2 linked regions of the Homo sapiens genome follow. The protein of the gene in region 2 interacts with the protein of the main gene of each other region in a biochemical or structural test. Each region holds a gene or a part of one and is shown on either strand. Other genes may lie near its edges.

Region 1 (7,038 bases), on a different chromosome or scaffold from region 2:
CAAGAGAACGGCATGAACCTGGGAGGTGGAGCTTGCAGCGAGCTGAGATCTTGCCACTGCACTCCAGCCTGGGCGACAGTGCGAGACTCTGTCTCAAAAATAAATAAATAAATAAATAATAAATAAAATGTTTGGAATGTTGGCTTCATCCCTGGGATGCAAGGCTGGTTCAACATACGCAAATCAAGAAACATAATTCATCACATAAACAGAACTAAAGACAAAAACCACATGATTATCTCAATAGATACAGAAAAGGCCTTCAATAAAATTCAACGTTGCTTCATGTTAAAAACTCTCAATAAACTAGGTATTGATGGAAAATATCTCAAAATAATAACCATTTATGACAAACCCACAGCCATTATCATACTGAATGGGCAAAAGCTGGAAGCATTCCCCTTGAAAACTGGCACAAGACAGGGATGCCGTCTCACCACTCCTATTTAACATAGTATTGGAAGTTCTGGCCAAGAAAATCAGGCAAGAGAAACAAATAAGGGGTATTCAAATAGGAAAAGAGGAAGTAAAACTGTGTTTGCAGATGACATGATACTATATCTAGAAAACCCCATTATCTCCACCCAAAAGTTCCTTAAGCTGATAAGCAACTTCAGCAAAGTCTCAGGATACAAAATCAATGTGCAGAAATCACAAGCATTCTATACACCAACAATACACAAGCAGAGAGCCAAATCATGAATGAACTCCCATTCACAGTTGCTAGAAAGAGAATAAAATACCTAGGAATACAGCTAATAAGATGTGAAGGATCTCTTCAAGGAGAACTACAAACCACTGCTCAAGGAAATAAGAGAGGACACAAATGAAAAAACATTCCATTCTCGTGGATAGGAAGAATCAATATCATGAAAATGGCCATACTACCCAAAGTAATTTATAGGTTCATTGCTATTCCCATTAAACTACTATTGACATTCTTCACAGAATTAGAAAAAAACTACTTTAAAATTCAAATGGAACCAAAAAAGAGCCCGTATAACCAAGACAACAATAAGCAAAAAGAACAAAGCTGGAAGCATCACACTACCCAACTTCAAAGTATACTGCAAGGCTACAGTAGCCAAAATGGCATGGTACTGGTACAAAAACAGACACATAGACCAATGGAACAGAATAGAGACCAGAGAAAGAAGACCACACATCTACAGCCATCTGATCATCGACAAACCTGACAAAAACAAGCAATGGGGAAAAGATTCCCTATTTAATAAATGGTGCTGGGAAAACTGGCTAGCCATATGCAGAAAATTGAAACTGACCCCTTCCTTACACCTTATACAAAAATTAACTCAAGATTAAAGACTTAATGTAAAACCTAAAACTATAAAAACCCTAGAAGAAAATCTATTTAATACCATTCAAGACATAGGCACAAGCAAAGGTTTCATGACAAAAACATCAAAAGCAATTGCAACAAAAGCAAAAATTACAAATGGGATCTAATTAAACTAAAGAGCTCCTGCACAGCAAAAGAAACTATCATTAGAGTGAACAGGCAACCTACAGAATGGGAGAACATTTTTGCAATCTATCCATCTGACAAAGGTCTAATATCCAGAACCTACAAGGAACTTAAAACAAATTTACAAGGAAAAAAACAACCCCATCAAAAAGTGGACAAAGGACATGAACAGACACTTCTCAAAAGAAGACATTTATGTGGCCAACAAACATATAAAAAAAAGCTCAACCTTACTGATCATTAGAGAAATGCAAAGGAGAACCACAATGAGATACCATCTCATGCCGGTCAGAATGGTGATTATTAAAAAGTCAAAAAACAACAGATGCTGGCGAGGCTGTGGAGAAGTAGGAACACTTTTACATTGTTGGTGGGAATGTAAATTAGTTCAACCGTTGTGGAAGTGTGTGTGGCTATTCCTCAAAGATCTAGAACTAGAAATACTATTTGTCCCAGCAATCCCATTACTGGGTATATACCCAAAGGAATATAAACCATTTTATTATAAAGATACATGCACATTTTTGTTCATTGCAGCACTCTTCACAATAGCAAAGACACAATAGCAAATGCCCATCAAAGATAGACTGGATAAAGAAAATGTGGTACATATACACCATGGAATACTGTGCAGTGCAGCCATTACAGCTTTTGGTGATACAGTGAATCAGATTTTTCATTAATTCTTTTAATTGGTTATTACTGAACGTGAAAAAGTAATGTTTGTATTGAAATCTTGAGTCTGGCCATGTTTCTATTTTAAATTCATAAAGAATTCTAACAAGAGGAATTCCAAGAATGTCATAAATGGATGTTTCTCCATGGATGAAGGAACTGTTTTATTCACTTGCTGATAATTCAGCCTAATCCAGTTTGACATCATATAGATAAGTAGTTGAATTATGGATTTAAAATACATATCATTTTCTAACTCCAAAGGTAATACTTATTTAAATGGTTTTGAAAATATAGAAAGGCACAATTTCTTTTTAAATCTGTTATTCTCCACCACCACTCAATCTGTCTATCATCTATCTCTCCATTCATTCTTCCATTTGTTTATATCTGTTAATCTTTGTATGTGTTCATGTATAGCTTTTACATGATTGGAATCATAATGCATATTCCATTTTGAAGTCTGCTTTTTTTTACACAAAAATATGTTGTGAATATTTTCCTATATTATGAAATATCATTAGCTGAGCTTTTAGAATTGACTGCATGTTTTGGTACCATTTAGATATAGTTTAAGATACTTAGAAGTTATGTGGCTTTGCCACTATGGATGAATCTTATTTACTCAATATTAATTACTTACAAATAACCTCACCTAAACACTACTCAGCCATAAAAAGGAATGAATTAATGACATTCACAGCAACCTGGAGACTATTACTCTAAAGGAAGTAACTGAGGAATGGAAAACCAAACATTGTATGTTCTCACTCATAAGTGGGAGATAAGCTATGAGGATGCAAAGGCATAAGAAGGATACAATGGACTTTGGGGACTTAGGGGAAAGGGTGGGAGGGGGGTGAAGGATAAAAGAATACAAATTGGGTTCAGTGTATACTGCTCAGGTGATGGGTGCACCAGAATCTCACAAGTAACCACTTAATTACTTACGCATGTAACCAGATACCACCTGTTCCCCAAACACCTATGGAAATAATTTTGTTTTTTTTTTTAAAAAAGGAATGAGATCATGTCCTTTGCAGGGACATGGATGAAGCTGGAAGCCATTATCCTCAGCAAACTAACAGAGGAGCAGGAAACCAAACACCACATGTTCTCACTTGTAAGCGGAAGCTGAACAATGAGAACACACGGACACAGGGATGAGATCAACACACACTGGGGCCTGATGCAGGGGCCGTAGCGGGGAGAGCATCAGGATAACTAGCTAATGCATGTGGGGCTTAATACCTAGGTGATAGGTTGATAGGTGCAGCAAACCACCATGGGACACGTTTACCTATGTAACAAACCCGCACATCCTGCACTTGTATCCAGAACTTAAAATATTTTAAAAATCTTTAGAGAATACAAAAAAAAAAAAAAAGATTCTTCAATGCATACACAATAAAATTGCAGTTCAGTCAAACATTGGAAGTCTTTCTCTGACTGTCTAGTTGGTATCTTCATTTTCAGCTTCTTCAAGATCCCACTCCAAACACTGTTAGCTCAGCCAAATTGAACAGCTCATATCTCCTACCTCTGGATCTTTGGTTCTGGTGATTGTATATTTCTGGACCATCTGGAACCCCAGCATATCACCCTACCCCACATCTCCACATCCCCAAAATATAACCATACTTCAAGGGCAGTTCAAATACCATCTCCTTCTATCCTCCATGAAGTCAGTTATCTCTTCCATTGGAATTATCGCCCCCTCTCCTGAACAGTACTATTTCGTGTGAATCTCCTCCAAGCCTTCTTTTCATTTTATATCTCATGCTGTAATTCTTGGAAAGTATGCTGTAGCTCAAGTGCAGAATTCTCATCAGTTTTATCTTTATATCTCTCCTAAACACTTTACCTGATGAAGAGCCTGGCATACACATAAATATATATTGAATGAATCAGTGATGGATTGAAAAGAGAAATGATGGATCTCCTAAATTTTAACTTTTATAAAATATTTTGATACATTCATGACCTTACTTTAGCAAGCAATGAACGTGATGTAAACTATTGTTGATATAGTTTTTATATTGGAAGTGTAAGTAGTTTGTGGCATGGGATTGTGACATATCCTAGGTTTCCTCATCTTCTTTTTATTGAAATGTAATTCACAAGCCATAAAATTTGCCCCTTTAAAGTAAATGATGCAGTGGATTTTAGTATATTTACAGAGTTGTGCAATCATCACCACTATCTAATTCCAGAACATTTCCATCTACCTAGAAACTCCATACCAGTGAGCTGCCACTCTAATCCTCCTCTTCCCCCAGCCTCTAGAAACAATAATCCATTTTCTGTCTCTATGATTTGCCTGTTCTAGATATTTTATAAAAATAAACATGTGGCCTTTCGTGTCTGACTTCCTTCACTTAGCATGTTTCAAGGTTCATCTATGCTATAGAGTGTACCAGTGCTTCATTACATTTTATGGCTGAATAATACCCTATTGTGTGGATATACCGCATTTAGTTTATTCATCAGTTGATCGAAATTTAGACTGTTTCCACTTTTTTGCTATTATGGATGATGCTGCTATGAATATTCGTATATGAATTTTTATATGGATATATGTTTTCAGTTCTTCTGGGCATATACCTTAGAAGTGAGAGTGCTCATCATATAGTAACTCTATGTTTAGCCTTTTGAGGAACTGCCAAACTGCTTTTCAAAGTAGTAGCATCATTTTATATTCCCACCAGCAGTGTATGAGGTTTTTTTTATTTTTTTGTTTTTGAGACGGAGTCTCACTCTGTCGCCCAGGGTGGAGTGCAGTGGCGTTATCTTGATTCACTGTAACCTCTGCCTTCTGGGTTCAAGCCATTCTCCTGCCTCAGCCTCCCTAGTAGTTGGGAGTAGCTGGGTTTACAGGAGCTCGCCACCATGCCCAACTAATTTTTGTATTGTTTTTTGAGACGGAGTCTCGCTCTGTGGCCCAGGCTGGAGTGCAGTGGTGCAATCTCAGCTCACTGCAAGCTCCGCCTCCTGGGTTCATGCCATTCTCCTGCCTCAGCCTCCCAAGTATCTGGGACTACAGCCGCCCTCCACCACGCCCGGCTAATTTTTTGTATTTTTAGTAGAGACAGGGTTTCACCGTGTTAGCCAGGATGGTCTCTATCTCCTGACCTCGTGATCCGCCTGCCTTGGCCTCCCAAAGTGCTGGGATTACAGGCGTGAGCCACCGCGCCCAGCCAATTTTTGTATTTTTAGTAAAGACAGGGTTTCACCATGTTGGCCAGGCTGGTCTCGAACTCCTGGCCTCAGGTGATCTGACTGCCTTGGCTTCCCAAAGTGCTGGCATTACAGACATTAGCTACTGTGCCTGGCCTCAAGTCCTTTCTCATTTTAAAACTGCGTTATTTTATTTTATTTTTCTGAGATGGAATCTCACTCTGTCGCCCAGGTTGGAGTGCAGTGGTGCAATCTCGGCTCACTGCAACCTCCACCTCCTGAGTTCAAGCGACTCTCCTGCCTCGGCCTCCCTAGTAACTGGGATTACAGGCACCCACCATCACGCCTGGCTAATTTTTGTATTTTTAGTAGAGACAGGGTTTCGCCATGTTGGCCAGGCTGGTCTTGAACTCCTGAACTCAGGTGATCTGCCTGCCTCGGCCTCCCAAAATGCTAGGATTACAGGCGTGAGCCACCACACCCGGTGGGTTGTCTTTTTATTGTTGAGTTGTAAGCATTCTTTTTAATATTCTGGATACTAGTTTCTTATCAGGTACAATCTTTGTGAATATATTCTCCCATTCCATGGATTGTCTTCTCACTTTCTGGATACTATACAGTACAAGTTTTAAATTTTGATGAAGTTCACTTGATTTCTGTTTTTTATGTTATTGCTTATGCTTTTGGTGTCATACCTAAAAAACCATTGTCTAAATCAATTGCCTATGAGGTGTTACCCCTATGTTTTCTTCTAAAGTTTTATGATTTTAGCTCTTTGACCCATTTTGAGTTATTTTTGTGTATGCAGTGCGAGATAAGCATCCAGCCTCATTCTTTTGCACATAAATGTTCACTTGTCTTAGCATTACTTATTGAAAATACTATTTTTTCCCTATAGAATTATTTTATACTTATCACAAATCAACTAACTATAAGGGTTTATTTCTGGACTCAATTCTGTTGCTCTATCTTATGGTAGTACCACACTGTCTTGATTATTGTAACTTCGTAGTAAGTTTTGGAATCCAGAAATGTAGTCCTCTAACTTTGTTGTTGTTGTTGTTCTTCTTTTTTCTTTTGTAGAGATGAGGCCTTGCTATGTTGCCCAGGCTGGTCTCAAACTCCTGGCCTCAAACAATCCTCCCACCTCCACCTCCCAAAGTGCTGAGGGGTGAGCCACTGCAACTGGCCTGTTCTTTTTCAAAATTGTTAGGGCTGTATTGGGTTTACCTTTCCCTAAATTTTCATATAACTGTTAGGATTCACTTGCAAATTTATGTAAAAAGGGCCTCTGGAATTTTGATAGTGATTACACTGAATGAGAGGAGTTTGGCAGGACTGGTTTCCCAAGACCACAAGACCCTGTAAGACCCTGCTGATAAGACAGGATGTGGTAGAAAGGCCAACCCAAACCAGCCAAAACCATGATGGTGACAGAAGAGACCTCTGGTTACCTTTGCTGCCCATTCTATGGTAATTATAATACATTAGCACGCTAAAAGAAACTTCTACAGCACCATGATAGTTTACAACTGCCATAGCAACTTTCAGAAGTTACCCTGTATGGTCTAAAAGGTCCAGACCTCCCCACTTCTTTCCTGGAAAACTCATGAATAAGCCACCTCTTGTTTAGCGTATAGTCAAGAAGCAACCATAAATATAGCCAGTCAGCAGCCCATCAGGGCTACTCTTCCTATGGG
Region 2 (7,038 bases):
ACACCAAACAAAGTACAAAGCTGCTTTTGTAAGTGTGTAGATGTCAAGAGCAGAACATATCTATAATATTTAATGTGTGAACAGCTACTGTGACATGCAAAGGAAAGGACAGTGCAGAATTAAACCGTGTTGAAGACCAGTGGAAATTGTATAATTTAACTTGGATTTAGGCAGGAAGTGAAATATGGGAGGAGTAAAGAAAACTGAAGAATTTAAAGTTTTCCTGAAGACAGTAATAATGCAGACACAAACTGGTTTCATATGGTGAGAGCAGCCACAGCAGCAGCTTGACCTGGTATTCTACCTGAGTAGATGAAGCAGAAGATCAGCAAGTTTGGCAGAGTTTTGGTTTAAGAAAAACAAACCACTACTACCTAGCACAAGTTAAATTTACAAGTCTGCTCCTCAAAAATGAAAAAATGGAGGAAAGAGACTATAAAACCACTTTTAGCATATGAATTGCAGTTGGTACACATGTGTGTGTTAATAGGAAAGTCTCGAATTTGTGTTGTTTTTGAGATTTGTCATTTAAGGTACCAGTGCACACTTGATCATATTTCATTACTATCTCTAACACAGTCCTAACATCTCAAATTTAAAGACCAGTTGAAGATTAAGGGATTTTTATCCTTTGTTGAAAGTCATGTTGGGTTATTTGAAATTCAAATTTTAATTGTGCTGCCCATATATGAAAATGAGACTGCTGACTCGCTATCTATGGACATGCACTTTATGTTGGTTTCTTAGTAGTAAGAGTAACTTCATGATAACCCCAGTCTTCTTGCCTAATTTCTTTTTTGAGACTAGCTGGGGTTAGGATTAGAATGACTATGGAGCAGATATTTGTTCTTCTGGGAAAAGCTTTAACAGGCCAAAATAGGGATTGAACTTGTCCTTGGCCTTTATCAAAGCAAGCTAGCTACCCAGACGTAGTCAAATACTCTACAAAATAAACAAGTCTGCTTTAGGAATTGTCTGGGTACCTTCACTGTTACCAACTTAGCTGTAAAGATTATTTCAAAGCTCACTCTTCCATGATTTCTTCTGGCTTTCAATCCTATCTAAGTATCAAGGAAATTAACTTGTAAATATGGTAGTTGTTTACTAAGGATATGTACTGCTCTTGCAAGGAAATAATGTCCAAACAAAGCTTCACTTATTTTTTTTAATATAAGCAGATTTCACTGTTTATGGCGCTTATGTAATACATTTTATCTTTTTAAAAATTTGTCCGTGTAAAAGTCAGGATTCCTTTATATTTGTGAGCCTCCTTTTCTCCTTTCCTAAGGATGTAATCTACAGTTTTCAGATCTGCAGGGTAGTCTTGATTGGCTAAAAACAAATCAATTTTCTTCTTGGCATAAAGTGTTTCATTATTATAGGGGTGTTCATTTTAAATAGTTTAAAAACAATTGCAGCACATTCTAAGCATAAGAGAAAGTTATTGACAACAGGTACCTTCCTAATCTCCCAAGACGTACTTACTCATTTGTGAAGTATTAAAGTAAGAGGTAACTCAAGCAGAATGCTGGCTATGAATGTAGATATTGAAGCTATTCATAAACACTGGAAATAGAATTTTAAGCTTTTAGCCTTCAGTGGAATGCACATATTGGACATGTGCATGTGAACACCTTTTTCAGTAGCACTCACGGATTTCCATTCGATTGTATAGAATGAATACAAGTGTTTTAGTGGAATTTGCTACTTAATTTTTAATCTTGCGATGTCCGTGATTATTACATGCTTACTAGTGTTGTGGACATTGAAGACAAGGTCATTCGTAGGTGTCAGATTACAATGGAGAACAAAAATCGTTTTCCCCCCACCCACATCCAAACACCATTCTCGAGGGAGCATTTCTTGCAAAACACCTTACATTTCATTTTCTATCTTTGCACTTTTTCTTAAGTACAGAAAAGTTGTCTTTAAGACCTAGTTTGAACTTCATGCAGTAAGAGGAACAAGGATAAACAATGTTGGGAGTTCACATTGTTCAGAGCATAAGGAAAAGTACCAAAACCCAAATTTTCTTGAATATTTCAGATGTTTTTAAAAACTCACTTCTAGTCTGAAACATTTGAATTGTTTTAACTCTGAGCAGCTGACAAAGTTGAGGTTTTTTTGTTTTGTTTTGTTTTGTTTTGTTTTTTTGAGACAGAGTCTTACTTGGTTGCCCAGGATGAAGTGCAATGGAGCGATCTCGGCTCACTGCAACCTCTGCCTCCTGGGTTCAAGCAATTCTCCTGTCTCAGCCTCTCGAGTAGCTGGGATTACAGGCGCATGCCACCACACCTGGCTAGTTTTTATATTTTTAGTAGAGATGGGGACTTCACCGTGTTGGCCAGGCTGGTCTTGAACTCCTGACCTCAAGTGATGTGCCTGCCTCGGCCTCCGAAAATGCTGGGATTACAGGCGTGAGCCACCATGTCCAGCCAAAGTTGAGGTTTATTAGTACTATTAGAAACAAAATTGAGCAAGTTAAGTTAAAAGTTTGCTGACTTTGTATCAACACTATAGAAGATGAGCCACCTTGTTAATTTGGAATATTTGCTCTGAAAAGAACATGTTAGTTACACCTTAATGGTGTTAATGGAGGTGGGGATTGAGAAAAGTGTTCACATTAGTGTTGGAATGTAGGTAATTGTACAGTTTATAAGACCTTTAGCACCAGGAAATAAAATATGTGTGTGTACACACACAGTTTTTAAAAACGATTGGAATTCATCCAAACCTTAAGATTAGGAAACTGATTGGCTGTAAGTGTTGCCTCAAGTAATGTGTCCCCCGCCCCATAACATGTCTTTTCTGTGCCAAGTATCCTCTCCTAGTGTCAGTGTCTCAAATTATATTTATGAAGGGTTATCACATAATATGCTTTGTATTTAACTACCTGCTTCCCAGGCGTCCATGACATGAAATGGGTGAAGCATCAGCCATGACTTTCGGTCAGTTCCCAAAATACCCAAATGATAGGGAGGTAAAGATTGCAAAATTCCTCTTAAAAGGCCATTTTTACAGCTTGCTAAAATACAGTGGCACCTTATGGTTGTTAATATTTTTTCTTTTAAAGATGGAGAATGTTTTTATTCTTCCCCTTTTCTCCTTTGTTCTTTTGCGAACAAAAAAAATTATAATCTGCCTTATTTGATTTTTTTTTTAAGTTTTACCTTACAGGCTTCCCTGTCACATGTTTTACCATATTAAGTACATAGAAGCCATGTTTGCAGGGCACTTTTATTCTCCTAGTCTTATAAGACTATGCTAATTGTTACTTTCTGAAGTATTCTGTACCTTAGTATGCAAGATTGTTAAGGCACATGTTAAAGTGTCAGGTGTGTTTTTTTCCCTTTAATTCTTCAGTATGTTTATATTCAATAACAGTATTGTAATTCATTGAGTTAACTAGTAAATTGTGTGCTTTTGAAAAAACATGAAAAATGTAAATTGACAGCATACTTCATTTGGAAAAAAGTAAAAGATCCGAGGAACTAGTATGTCACTTATTTATTTTTATTTTATTTTATTTTTTACTTTTTGAGACAGGGTCTTGCTCTGTCACCCAGGCTGGAGTGCAGTGGCATGGTCACAGCTCACTGCAGCCTTGACTTCCTGGGCTCAGGTGATTCTCCCACCTCAGCCTTCCAAGTAGCTGGGACTACAGGCATGCACCACATTGCCTGGCTAATTTTTTGTGGAGATGGGGTTTCGCCATGTTGTCCAGGCTGTTCTTGAACTCCTGGGCTCAGGCAATTTGCCTGCCTCATTCTCCCAAAGTGCTGGGATTATAGGCGTGAGCCACTGCGCCCAGCCTTACTTATTTTTAAATCAGATTTTTTAATCAACTAAAACAGCTATGAGTTAAGTACCTGCCCTGCAAAAATTTTTAGAAAAAGTTTTAGGATTATGAAATTAAGAATTATTTTCCTTAACTGGAACAGTTCTAAAATTTATCTGATACTTCTCTAACAAGTGAGTGATCTCATGTAACCCCAGTTTGTATCTTAAAGGCTGCAGCATAGAATTGAGCTGTATAACAGTGTTAGAACTGTCAAGTGATAATCACAGAACAGTTTGTATCGGTTTTATAATTCTCATGTCTTGATCAGATCTGAAGGAAATAGGCATACCCTCCAACATTCTAAAAATTATTTATTTTTATTAGGATTTGTTTATTAAAGTTCCACGAGCTGCTTTATGGTCAGTTGGGCTGAGTAGTAGATATCTTAAAGACATGCAGTGAAAGTGAACCCTGTCATATCATGGTGCCTCTTTCAAGGTTCCTCTGTAAGTTCCTCATCTTGCAGAATTATTTCAATACCAAGGTATGGTTGAACCAGCTGTCCAGCCTTAACTCTATTTAGTGCCCCATTACTAATGTTCTTTTAACTGGTTTGTATGTGTTTTAACTGTCCAGTGTTTGGATTTTACCTCTTGATAGCTCCATTTGTCCCTGGTGCTGCTTTTAAGGATGTAGGGCCATGTGATCAGGTATCAAGTTGAGTAGGTACGCAGTTGGCCTGGTGATGTATCTGTGCCTGTTTTATCTTCTCCCAGGAAGAGCTGCTTTGGTATAGTTGTTTACTTGGATTCATACAAAGAACAGGGCAGCAATCTTGGAAAGCTTTCTGAAGCTTATAAGAACCTGAAGGGGTTTGGAGGGGGAACAGTAACAAAGGCTGCCTTTATGTCTTTGGTCACAAAGCACATAGATGTATGTTCTGTAAAGACTAAAGTGATTGTTATACCAGGGCTTCCTGACCTTCGGGAGAGACTCAAAAAAGCAGAGAGGAGCACAAAGTGAAGTTAATTTGGTTGGCTTGCTTTATCTGGTTTCTCATTTTCTTTCAATTTAAACCTGAACATAACACCCTTCTCCGATACCTATCCAGCAGACTCCTGGTTGGGAAGCCCTGTATTAAATTTTGAGAATGTACACAGTTTTCTTTTGTACAGTGCTTTACAACTGCTAAAAGTTAACTTGTTTAAAGCAAAACAAGACCTTGAAAGGTCAATCATATTAAAGCTGGTTTGATTATTAATAGTTATCTTTTAGGAAGAAGCTTTTTTCCCTATGTAAGATGTCATACTGCAGATTTAAAATATAGACTATCAATAAAATGCATGAAGTGATCATTTGTGCTTGATCATCTCTCCTTGGGTTTTTCTTTAAAAAGGGGAATCTGCTATAAAGGTTCTGTTGCTTCAAACCAATGTCAAATAGACTTGATTTTTAGAGTCATGGAATTACAGTGCAACCTTGATTTTTATTCCCCTCACTGCTATGAGTGTGGGCAGGTACTGGTTTATATGTTATAACTTCCGTTTTATCTGTGTTGTGTAGTTGAATGGCTTAATCGTTGAGTGGTAAAATAAAAGATTATATTCCAATACAAGAATCCTGGAAAGATTTATGTGAATGACATTTTAAGTAGGCGCATCTTTGCTGTTTCTTGTATTCTCGCCATTGCTCTGACCACTCCCTTGCTTGCCCTGTATATATACAAAAACTTGTAGGTGTGCACGTGTGCTTGTACTTCTGTCTTCCATTTCTATCTTAATCTCTTAAACATATTGCTTAAGCCACTAAGATGTCCTTGTTTCAAGTAAATCGTCACATTGTGACACCTGGTGTATTGTATTATAGTTTCATTTCCTCTGGTGCCTGCAGAGCTATCTGTCATTGGCATCATAACTCGGTTTCTCAGGATAGTTTTGATGTAGTCAGCTCTTCAACTCATGACCTTCCCAAGGTTTTAAGTTTAGTGTCATTCATGATTTTATTATTTGAAACTCAATACCACCATCAAAAAGTTAGTGCTCTAGACAATGAAGCCAAAGCACAGGCATCTTAGGTCAGTGAAAAGGATCCAGACATAAATTAGCCAGGTGTGGTGGTACACAGCTGTGGTCCCAGCTACTTGGGAGGCTGAGGTGGTAGAATCACTTGAGCCCGGGAGGTCAAGGCTGCAGTGAGCCATGATCATGCTGATGCACTCCAGCCTGGGTTACAGAGCAAAACCTTGTCTCAAAAAAACCCCCAGATACCTAGAAGAAAGGATTCGATAAATCTGGGTGGATTATAAACTGAACTCTTAATGGTCATTTTAAAAAATAAGAAAGCAAGGGTCCAGTTTCTTTGAGGTCTTTGAATTTAGACAAGATTTAACTATAAGGCCTTGCATGGATTACTAACTATAATTAAATTAGCTAAACTTTTCTGGTTGCTGTCAGGCATTGTATTAAGTATTCTATATAAATTATTTAATCATCACAGTGACTGTGAGGTGAAAGTATACCACCCATTTTATAGGTAATGCAGCTGAGATACAGATGTTTGGTAATTTGCCCAGGTCACATAGTAAGTAGCAGATTATTTGCAATCATCTTTGATGCAGTCATCTTCCTTGTGCTCTTAATCCCACTACTATATGACTTCTAATTTGTTTCTTAGTATTTATCCCAAGCCCTAGACTAGATTGCTTATGAGGTGTGATTTCTTAGGAAAAACATCAGTTTTGGCTGGTTTGCCAAGAAAAAAAAAGGCCAAATTGGTTTTTGTTTATTTTTTTGTTTGTTTGAGATGGATTCTCGCCCTGTCGCCCAGGCTGGAGTGCAATGGTGCGATCTTGGCTCACTGCAACCTCTGCCTCTGGGTTCAAACGATTCTCCTGCCTCAGCCTCCCGAGTAGCTGGGATTACAGGCGCCCGCCACCACGCCCAGCTAATTTTTCTATTTTTAGTAGAGACAGGGTTTCACCATGTTGGCCAGGCTGGTCTTGAACCCCTGATCCCATGATCTGCCCGTCTCGGCCTCCCACAGTGGTGGTATTACAGGCGTGAGCCACCACGCCCGGCCGCAAATTGTTTTTTGTTTTTTTGTTTTTTGGAGGATTAATGGTAATATACTGTAAATTCAGTAAAGCACTGGGCATTACCAGATACACCTTAGCACTATGAATAACATGAACTATCATTTTAGCAGTTTAAGTGTACCTTGTAATCAGCCCTAGGGCAAACGGTATCAAGGTGTTTTAT

What was found. The genes of interacting proteins can lie anywhere in the genome.
Region 1: the proteins of RLIM (region 2) and CFLAR form a complex in vitro, tested with the Homo sapiens proteins (one study listed by BioGRID).

The regions. Positions count from the first base shown.
Region 1 is NC_000002.12:201,168,147-201,175,184, forward strand, and holds part of CFLAR (CASP8 and FADD-like apoptosis regulator), read left to right. Parts: 3' UTR 1-7,038. UniProt on the Homo sapiens protein: Apoptosis regulator protein which may function as a crucial link between cell survival and cell death pathways in mammalian cells. Acts as an inhibitor of TNFRSF6 mediated apoptosis.
Region 2 is NC_000023.11:74,583,587-74,590,624, reverse strand, and holds part of RLIM (E3 ubiquitin-protein ligase RLIM), read left to right. Parts: 3' UTR 1-7,038. UniProt on the Homo sapiens protein: E3 ubiquitin-protein ligase.